Homo sapiens: one gene and its partners. Changing the gene in region 2 together with the main gene of any one other region gives a genetic interaction. Each region holds a gene or a part of one and is shown on either strand. Other genes may lie near its edges.

Region 1 (3,753 bases), on a different chromosome or scaffold from region 2:
CAGTGGCCGTGGCGGTCAATGAGGGTTCACCGTGGTCCTTCACCAGCACCAGTAGGCGATGGCGCGGGGCGTCCACCTCGTCCAGGGCACGGGTCGTGCTGATCTCTCCCGTGTACAGCCCCACGCGAAACGGGATGCGCGCACCGCCGGTCCCAGGCTGCAGCTCATACGAAAGCCACGCGTTGTAGCCTGAGTCTGCATCCACTGCGCGCACCTTCGCTACCACGTGGCCCGCACCCACTGACCGCGGCACCAGCTCGCTCACTGCGCCACCGATGCCACCCACCCGAGGCATCAGCAGTGCCGGCGCGTTGTCGTTCTCGTCCAGCACGAACACCTGCAGCGTCACGTTGCTGCCCAGAGGCGGCACGCCCGCATCGCGCGCACTCACCTGGAACTGCAGCAGCTCTAGCTCCTCGTGGTCCAGCGGCTGCAGCGCGTACACCTTGCCGCTCTCCGCGTGTACCGACACGTAGCTCGACAGCGCGCGCTCCCCCACCCGCCGTTCCACCAGCGAGTAGGACACCAGGGCGTTCTCCTGCGCGTCCGCGTCCCGCGCAGACACCGTGAAGATGTGGCAGCCCGGCGGGTTGTTCTCCTTCACGAACACCGTGTACTCGGACTGCGAGAATGCCGGCGCATTGTCGTTCACGTCGGCCACCTCCACGGACACGCTGGCCGTGGCCCACAGTGAAGGCGAGCCCCCGTCCCGAGCAGTCACCACCAGCTCATAGGCCGACACGCTCTCGCGGTCCAGAGGGCTGTCCAGCACCAATGAGTAGTAATTCTTGAAGGTGGACACCAGCTTGAAGGGGACGTGGGGCGTCAGCGAGCAGGTGACCTGTCCATTGACTCCTGAGTCGCGGTCGGACACGCTGATCAGAGCGATGACTGTGCTAAGTGGAGAGTCTTCTAATACAGGTAAAGATAGTGATTGAATAACTAACTCAGGTACATTATCATTGATGTCCACAATTTCGAGTAGAACTGTGCAGTGATCTGACATTGGGGGATTTCCTTTATCCGTGGCTTCTACCTGGATTTCATATGACTTACTTTCCTCGAAATCTATGTTACCCTTTACACTGATTTGTCCATTGACTGGATCTAAATGGAATTTTGACAGAATATCTGCTGACATGTCCGTATTGAAAGAATACGCGATATCCTTATTTACTCCTTCATCCAAATCGGTGGCGTTAACGGTCACCACTAGGGTACCATTTGGTGCATTTTCGAGTAATCTGACTTTATAGATCGTCCTCTCAAACGCTGGGGCGTTGTCGTTTACATCTAAAACAGTGATCTTTAGTTGAGTCGTGCCAGTGAGCTCTGGTTTCCCACCATCAATTGCTGTTATTAGTAAATAATGCTTAGGAGTGTCCTCTCGATTTAAATTTTTTTTCAACACGAGTCCAAGGGATTTAATTTCCTCATCATTTCTTTTAACGTCCAAGGTAAAATATTCAGTGGAATCAAGACTGTAAGTCAACAACGAATTTGTTCCGATATCTGCATCTGATGCGCCCTCTAGCGAAAACCGAGAGCCAGGCTGTCGGGATTCGGAAATAAACAGATTCTTTACAGCCATTGGAAAAACTGGCGCGTTGTCATTAATGTCCTTCACTTCCACCTCCACATGGAAAACCTGCAGCGGCCTGTCCACGATCACCTCCAGGTGGATGCTGCACTCCGCGCTCCGCCCGCACAGTTCCTCGCGGTCTATCCGAGAATTCACAAACAAAATGCCATTCTGCAGATTTACCTCCAGAAGGTCCCCGTGTCTTTTGGACGCCACCCGGAACAGGCGCGGCACCAGCTCCGCCAGCTCCAGCCCCAGGTCCTGCGCGATGCGGCCCACGAAGGTGCCATGCTTGGCCTCCTCAGAGACGGAGTAGTGGAGCTGGCCGCTCCCCACCTCCGAGGCTGCGAGGAGCAGAAGAGAAAGCAGCAGGCACTGGGCTCCAGGATCTTCTCGCCAGGAGAACAACATTGCAAGTATTTTCCAAATATTAGATTGCCTTTACATTGATCCAAAGTTTAAAAATAATTCGAGTTCCTTATCTTCATTTCTTAAACTCCTCGGTGTTAAATTTTAGAGAGGATGAAGCAAAGCAGTATCTGAATACGTAATGCACGCTGTTATTTCTTTTGTGGAGAAAGACCTTGTGGTGGACAGCGACATCATGTGGCTAAACGTGTAAGTATTAAATATGTAAACGTATCTTCTTTTCCTTGTATGTCGTTTGAACTTTCCCAAAATTTCTAGTTTCAATTGTAATATCCTTCGGTCACTCCTCAAAGTCCTTATATTTTATCTAAATATTTCCTTAGAACTTTTATACTAATTCACTATCAATTGTGCTAATTCATGACATACACTAAAATATTGTGATTCCTGTTTTAACAGTGGACATCTATTGGAAATATTTCCCATGTGACAGCCACTTTTCTATTTGTCTTAATGGAATTATCCCGTTAAATTATCACAATCCTCTGAAATAAGTTTTAATATTATTCGCTTTTTATAAACACATAGAGGTTAAGTAAAACGATATTATCTCTTGGTACGATGGGATTTCAATCTGATTCAAGACAACTTACCATTAACCTCTTTACCACCCAAGTTACATTTTATAGAAAAATCAGATCCTTTCAGATTTATGATCATCAAAACATTGAGATGTTGAAGTATTTAAAAGTGTGTGTGTGCTGTATATATTAAAACATACATATATCTACTTTTATGTTATTACAGCAACTGTTAATTTCTTAAAATATGTACATTTATGGTTTTTTAAATTTGTAGAATGTCTGTAATTCCCTCCCATGCCCCTTTTTCAAGAACTATAGCCTCATCAACTGTCTTGACTGTAACTTACATAAAGATTTCAGAAGTCGGTCCTTTACAGAGAAATTCAAACAGGAAATTTGTTTCCTATTGTGGGAATGTGATTTGTATATTTGTTACACTCACATCACATCAATTAAGAATATATTAGGTTTAATTTTTCCACACTCTTTATGTATTTGAATTTACCTGTATATACTAAAATGTTAACAATATAAAGTAATTACGTTTTTGATGATCTCCACTCCTGATGAATTTCTAGATTCCAGTTTTTTTAAAAGTTGTTACTTGAAAGAATTGATTATTTAACTAAACAGTGAAGGGAGAAAAGTAACCTAGGAACATAAGCCAGTATTTACTCAACATATTTAACACTAAGCAATAAAACATTCTAAAGATATCTGTGAATTCAATGAGAAGCATGAATTCTCGCCGCATTTGGAAGTGGGGCAAAGAAAATTTATGGAAAGAGGTCAAATTTAGAGAAATAAAATAATGTACAAATTTTTGCTTATACCCAGACCATTTAAAAATGAAATCAAACATGTGATTTAAATATTTAGGGGAAAAGTTTTCATTTCAGCTTTTGTTTCCTGTGTATTCATGAAATGGAAGCCAGGACTGCAACTTACTCAGATTTTATCATTCATATTTAGAATAGGATAAATTATCAATTGTTGTTTTCATGAATAAATAAATTAATATTTTGAATTAACTTTTTCAAGCAAGATAAATAAAAATGTAAGTTAATGATATTTGTTAATATCAAACTTACATAATTTCTAAATGATTATATTGTGCTATATTATGAAGAAGTAAGTAAACATTTAAGCATTATTTCTGAAAAGCATGGACCTAAGAAATAATTATAGCTATTAATATTCCAGTTACCACTTTGCTGA
Region 2 (3,653 bases):
TATTTTATTTTTTTAATTTTATTTATTTATTTTTTGAGACGGAGTTTCGCTCTTGTTGCCCAGGCTGGAGTGCAATGGCGTGATCTTGGCTCACCACAACCTTTGCCTCCCAGGTTCAAGAGATTCTCCTGCCTCAGCCTCCAGAGTAGCTGGTATTTTAGGTGCCTGCCACCACACCCAGTTAATTTTTTGTATTTTTAGTAGAGATGGGGTTTCACCATGTTGGCCAGGCTGGTCTCAAACTCCTGACCTCAAGTGATCTGTCCACCTTGGCCTCCCGAAATGCTGGGATTACAGGCGTGAGCCACTTCACCCGGCCCTATACTGGCCATTTTTTAACTTTAAGAAGCCAAAGTTTCCTGTTTAAATGAGCATAAATTAAATTTTACATACAGCTTGATGTCAACTACATTAGAAAAAGGCCAAAAGGAAATTATGAGAATAGCAGCTACCATGGATGTGTCATACCTTTCCCCCTGTGAATCGCAAAGCACCCATTCCACGATCGGCTCTGGAACGCTCTCAGATATGCAGACCAGGGCGTCCTGGTTTTCCATTTTTCTAAAGTAAGGTCTTCTTAATGTGTAAAGCAGGGTATCTAAAGCATCATAAGTTATTAACATTTTACTATTTTAAAAATAATTCTCTTAGCAGCCCCTCAGAAAAGGATTCTATGTCATTATGAAAAGTTCTCAACCATTACGTATACATATTTTTTTCTTTTTTCATAATAAAGGCATCAAAAGCAAACCAACCATTATATTAAATTTAGCTGTGGCTGCAGTGTCAACTTGAACATTTCTCCTCTTGGCCAATTTCTTTGGGTATTTCACAAATCCACAGCTAACTAAAGTAGTCGAGTGAAGCCATGTGAAAATACAAATATTGATAGGCACAGGAAAAAGGAAATTAGCAATAACATATGGCTTAAACCCTTGTTTAACACATAGTTTAGACCTCAACTTTCTTCCTATAATTTGATCTGCAACTAGGCAGAAATATACTAAGATTTAGAAAGACAGAAGAAACATGGTAGGGTGGAGTTGGAATTGCAACAGAACTTAAGAGGTTTAGTTGAGCCTCCCACTCACCCTGGATCACACACACACACACACACACACCATCCTTCACTCCCAGCTATTTCTAACATAAACTTTCTACTTCTACTTTGACTCTTCTAGAGACTGGAGTTCATGACCTCCCAGGGCAGGTCATTCTAATTTCTGACAAACTTTTTTTTTTTTAAAGAAAGTTTCCCTATACTGAATTCCAGCCTCTCTCCTTACAATAAATTTTGTTTGAAAATACTATGTACTGTTTGATATATATATATATATATGAAAGAATATATGGAGTGTAAATTTCAAAGCATAACAACAACAAATACCCACGGAGCCACTATCCACCTAATAACTAGAATATTAATAAATACCTTTTGATCTACTTTTATGCTTCTCCCCACCTCTCAACTGCACGTATCCTTTATCCTGAATTTTGTTGATTATTCGAGGACTCTTCAAAGTAGTTATACCAAATAAATATGTGGCACTAAACAATATATTGATTTTTTCATTCTTGAGCTTCAAAATAGTGTTATCAATCAATATGTAACTTCTACAACTTCATTTTTTCATCCAACCTTATGTTTTTAAAATTCATCCATGGTTTTACATGTAGCTATACTTTATTCATTTTTTTTTTTACTGCTACATAATATTCTATTGGTAAATATATCATTATTTTTTCATTTTCTTGCAGTAGACATTTGGGTTGTTTCCTTCCGTGTGTGTGTGTGAGACAGGGTCTCTGTCACCCAGGCTGGAGTGCAGTGGTGCAATCTCAGCTCACTACAGCCTCAACCTCCCAGGCTCAAGTGATCTTCCTGCCTTGGCCTCCCAAAGTGCTTGGATTACAGGTATGAGCCACCACACCCGGCCACAGTTTTTTGTATGATCAACCATGTGCTCTGAACATTCTACACATTTGTACTGAGGCATGTGTATAACAGTTTCCTTAATAACATTCTTAAGAGTGGAACTGCTGGTCTACATGGTATGAGCACATTCAGCCTTACACATAATGATCATTTGTTTTCCAAAGTGGTTATACTAATTTATGTTACACAGCAGGATATGAGAGCACCTATTGCTTTATAGACTTACCAAGACTTCTTAATTTTCAGCAATCCAGCAAGTATAAAATGGTATTTCATTGTGGTCTTAATTTAATTTCTCCATTATTAATTTAACATGTGTTAAAATAATTAATTGGGAGTCCATTAGGCTGAGACAACTCTAACAGCTTGAGTTCCTAGGTAAACAAATCACAACACAACTCAAAAAAAAAAAAAGGAAAAGAATAAAGGCCGGGCAAGGTGGCTCACGCCTGTAATCCCAGCACTTAGGGAGGGTGAGGCGGGAGGATCGCTTGAGCCCAGGAGTTCGAGACCAGCCTAGGTAACATGCCAAAACCCCGTCTCTACAAAAACAACAACAACAAAAAGCAAAAAACAAACCCAATTCAATATGAGCAGCAAAATGCAACTTAGCTTAATCAATGAGGAACTGCAAACTGACCAATCCAGGGACTGTCCTTCTTTAAACAATCAAATTTTTTCTTTGTCTTGCTTCCGGGAACACATTATAGAAAGAAGTCTTACCCTTGAATCTCCTCACTGGAGCCCACCTGCTTGCCATCTGGTACTGCCTGATTCATGAATTGCTTTCTGCTCAAATATACTCTTTACAACTTTAAAGTGCCTAAGTTTATCTTTTAACATGTTTCTTGACCATTTAGGTTTCATGTTCCAAAAATGAAATGCCTACTCATGTCCTTTGTTCATTGCTCTACTAGGTTTTCATTTTGTTCGTTTTTCTTATTGACTTATTGACTTATATAGATTGTTTATCTTATTGACTTTACATATTATGACTATTAATCCTTTGTTGATTGTGAACTGCAAGTATTTTTTCCCATCTTGAGGTGATTTTTACTTTTTCTCCCTGTAATTTCTAACAATTGGTTCTTATCATATCCTCTAGAGCAACTTTTTTAAAGTCTAGCTTTGATTCCATATGAAAATCTTTCAAATATTTAAAATCAGAAACCGAGATCAAGGGAGATAATTACCATACAAGGTACTTTAACTAGTTAGCTCAGGTTTCCTGACTCAAATCCCAAAAGAATTTCCTCTGCATTACACTGCAATCAATCTTATCGTCTCCTCAAAACATTTCCTTCTATATACTACACATTCCCAATTCCTTCAACTGCTCCTAATTTAAAGAATTCCAAGTTTTCCACTATCCTGGTTGCTCATTTTGTCAGTATTCATCTTTAAAAAAGTAGAACTGAAATGAATAAGCTTCTATTAATTTCCTTAATTTAGACGTTATATTTTCATGAACACTGCCAAGGTTCAAATTTACTTTTTTGGCAACCATGCCACGCTGGTGGTTAATACTGAGCTTGTGGTTGACTAAACCCTTTCCTCTTTTTCACACTGACTGTTGCCACATCTCTCCCACCTATTTTTTGGATCCCACCACCTTGCAGAATGCTAAAAATAAGTTATAATTTACCTGAATAACTGTTGTTACATTTTTACATTGTAAATCTTAAGTGAAAGGAATATACCCTAAGTATAACAGAGA
Region 3 (3,753 bases), on a different chromosome or scaffold from region 2:
TTTCCAGCAACATACATGATAGGAAGACACAAACCTTAGAACACAGTACAAATGTTGTATTCACCAGTCAAGGGTTCTTGGATAACACACAATCCTGGCACCTCCATTCTCTCATTCATAAAGTCGAGAACTTTTATCATAGTGAGGGATTTGCCTAAGCTAAGCTGCAAACTACATAGCCTCCTCGCTTTTCCAGTCAATTTCAGGCATTCTTTCCATTGTTTTCTTTCCTCCTCTTCCTCCTATGTGACAATGCCTAACACACACACACGTGCACACACACACACGAACACACACACACGCACACACCAGCAGACGTTCTTCTTCCCTTTCCCTCACCTTGACCTGCAGATGCTCCCTCATCCTCTCCCTCCTGAGCAGCTGCAGGATCCTGACGTTGAGTTGCTGGTTCCCCTTCTTCAGGTGTTGCTGGTTCCACTTCATCACTGAACTGCTCGGGCTGGGGAATACGTGTGGGTGTGCAAATAGAAAATAAGTTTCGTTATTGATACAAAATTTTACATATATACACAGAATACATAGCTATTTCTGGTCCTAACTAAGCCTAAAGACATTTCTCCAACTCTATGCTCTATGCCCAATAAGGTTACTCCACCCACAGGGAGGTTACTGTGAGAAAAGTGACGCACGAGGACTTTGGGGGCTATTATACTCTGTGTTGGAATACATGTGTACAATCTGTCATTAACAAACAAAGCCGGAGAAAGAAGTCATGGGCAAAAGCTGAAGAACACGAGAGGAAAAAAAAAATCCTCCAGAATCAATGTTTCCTTCATGAGATGCCATCCTCATTTTTTATGAGCAGGAAAGACCTTTATCAGCATTTCCACACTAATGCAACGACGCTATCACAAAAATTAATTTCTACTAATAGAAAACATCGAATTAACGTTTAAGCACTCACCCGCATAGGCCCAATCATTTCAGGAGGCTGTACATAGCGCCTTGGTCTAGGCCAATAATAGGTCGATCTTCCTCGCCAACTCATATTTCACACTGAAAACAGACAACCGTGATTGGGAACGTGCGCTCCAGAGGGCTGCTATATTCGATCACTTCCATGGATAAATGTTAACTTGCCGTTTTACTTTTGAAAATACTCTCAAAATAAGTCCCAGAGTTAAGCATACGTGTGTACGCTGTCTGAGTGCCTACAAAGCCACTTCTGCTGGCCAGGCTGGCAGAGCAATCATCTTAAGGCGTGTGGCAAAAGGCAGAGGACATTTTTTTCTAAATTTCTTTTGGACACGCGGTCTCGCTGTGTTGCTCAGGCTGGAGTGCAGCGGCGTGATCACAGCTCACTGCAGCCTCGACCTCCCGCTCAAGGGATCCTCCCACCTCAGTGTCCCCAGTAACTGGGAATACGTAGGCGAGCGCCACTGCGCCCCGCAGACAGAGGTCATTTCTGATGAGGTTTAGTTTCACAAGTGCACTCCCCACGAAAACCCTAGTGAATCACAATTCTCGTGATTGCTGCTTTGGGCACACTCCCACTTCCTAGAGCCATTCACCCCCACTCACAACAAGTTTGGTTGGACCGCACTGCCTCGCCCACTCCTTCCCACTGTTTTCGGACCTTCCATGGCGGAGGTGAGACCTTGCAGTGCTTCTCACTCGGGCGCTCCGCACTCCACACCGCTGAGGGGGCGCTCGCCAGGCCGCAGCCTTCCCAGGTGCCAGGCCCCTTCTTCACCGCCCGCCTCGCCCCCGCCGGGGGCCCCATTCAGGGAATCTGCCCTGTGTCGTCGGGGATCCCGGCACCTCGGGACTTCCATCCCCCCAACAGCACTCACCCCGTCTTCACCTGAGCCCCTGACCGCCTCCCCTCCACGGCCCACCTTCCTCCCCGTCCAGGCCCCTTCACGACCACGAAGCCGCCGGTGGCCTCGCAGCCTGTGAAGGGAAGGAGGACGACCTCGTGGCCCTTCTCCCTCGGAGGCCACAGACCAGGAAGCGGGACCCGCCTGACCCACCCGAGGCCCTCTCCACCCTCACTCACACTTCAGCCCCCGGGATGACTGGCCTGCACACCTACCAGATGAATCTCAGTAGAGGAAAAAGAGTCCGGACGGCAGGAACCACACAGCACTGCCTCACAGCTCCCTGGCGTTCTTCACGTGGGCGAAGGGGCCGGGCAGAAGACGCCCAGTGAACATGCGCACTGAGGCGGGAGCCCAGGGAGCATGCGCGGCTGTGGGCTGGGGAGGGCTGCCGTTCCCAGCGCCACGCCCCAAACCCTCCATGCCCATCCTCATTGAGGATAAGGGAATCCCACCTCCCTCTGCTGTTTCCTATGCCTCTGGGACTCAAGTAGTGCTCCCCTCAAAACTCACCCCATCTTCAACTGAACCCCACCCCCAACCCAGGGCCCTCTCTTGCCCCGGACCCACCATGGGGACAAGGACCACTGTGACTGGCTGGGAAGACAGGTAAACCACCTGCGAAAACAGAAATAGCAACCTATCCCAAAAGGAAATTGTTCAATGTGAACAAGTCAGAGAAAGAGACTGAAAGAAAAATGAATAGAATCGCTAGGACCCGTAAGAAAATGCTAAAACGATATCTATCATTTGTAGCATCAGAATCGCAGAGGGTGAAGTGACAGTATTAGGGAAACAGGACAGCCAGAGTGACACCACGTGAAAATATACTCCGTCTTGAAAGCAGCAAGATACATAGTCCTACCAGTCACAACCCATGGTCCTAAGATGTTTGGAGTTGAGAAAACAGATGAAAGGTACCTCCAAGGACATGCTCCCACAGCAGCGGAAAGTGCACGGTTCCCAACACCCATTAACAATATATGCTTTCAACAGAATTATGCTTTCATGGACTTACACACTGGTAAGTCAAGGACAGTTTTCTTTAAATCAATAGAATGATAAAAGTCATCATGCTCTTAGCCCACCCGCACAAAGGCACAGATTAACTTTAGTCTTTATATAGATAAGACCCCTATATAAGAAAAACCAGACCAGGCCAAGGCTCACGCCTGTAATCCTAGTATTTTGGGAGGCTGAGCTGGCCAGATCACCTGAGCTCAGGACTTCGAGACCAGCCTAAGCAACATCAGAAAATCTCATCACTACAAAAAACAAACAAAAAACCATCGAAAAATTAGCTGGGCATGGTGGCATGTACCTATACTCACAGCTCCTCAGGAGGCTGAGGTGGGAGGCGCGCTTGAGCCCAGCAGGTCAAGGCTGCAGCGAGCTCTGATAACACCACCGCACTCCAGCCTCGGTGACAGAGTGAGACGCTGTCTCAAGTTTTAATAATCGAACCTAAAAACGTACAAATTTATCAATCGAATTCACTATATTAACACATGAATGGGAAAAAACGCTGTGGTAATCGAAATAGATGCACTGTTTGATGAAAATCAACATATATTCAAATGAATACTCTCAGCAAATTTGGAACAGAATGCAATGACTCACTCTGATAAAGTCCGTCTACAAAAAAAGGAGAGTGAATAGGATGGTGAAATGTTGAAATTTTTCGGTTTCTCATCAGGGATAAGACAAGGATGTCCACTGTCACCATTGTAACGGGTGGGTCTGCGCAATGCCATAAAATCAGAAAAGGAAATAAAACTCTTTACAATGGCAATGACGGGCCCGCCACGGTGGCCCACGCCAGTAATCCCAGCACTGTGGGAGGTGAGGTGGGTGCATCACTTGCACTCAAAAGTTCAACAACAGCCCGGGAAACATGGCAAAACCCCGTCTC

Evidence for each region.
Region 1: changes in FLT3 (region 2) and PCDHA3 together harm fitness less than expected from each alone (positive genetic interaction), as found in Homo sapiens cells (one study listed by BioGRID).
Region 3: changes in FLT3 (region 2) and GAGE12G together harm fitness less than expected from each alone (positive genetic interaction), as found in Homo sapiens cells (one study listed by BioGRID).

What each region holds. Positions count from the first base shown.
Region 1 is NC_000005.10:140,799,438-140,803,190, reverse strand, and holds the start of PCDHA3 (protocadherin alpha-3 isoform 1 precursor), read right to left. Parts: upstream 2,135-3,753; 5' UTR 1,994-2,134; coding exon 1-1,993. UniProt on the Homo sapiens protein: Potential calcium-dependent cell-adhesion protein. May be involved in the establishment and maintenance of specific neuronal connections in the brain.
Region 2 is NC_000013.11:28,052,077-28,055,729, forward strand, and holds part of FLT3 (receptor-type tyrosine-protein kinase FLT3 precursor), read right to left. Parts: intron 848-3,653; exon of another isoform or gene 756-847; intron 599-755; coding exon 469-598; intron 1-468. UniProt on the Homo sapiens protein: Tyrosine-protein kinase that acts as a cell-surface receptor for the cytokine FLT3LG and regulates differentiation, proliferation and survival of hematopoietic progenitor cells and of dendritic cells.
Region 3 is NC_000023.11:49,568,811-49,572,563, reverse strand, and holds the start of GAGE12G (G antigen 12G), read right to left. Parts: upstream 2,165-3,753; 5' UTR 2,057-2,164; intron 1,018-2,056; 5' UTR 1,010-1,017; coding exon 926-1,009; intron 461-925; coding exon 340-460; intron 1-339.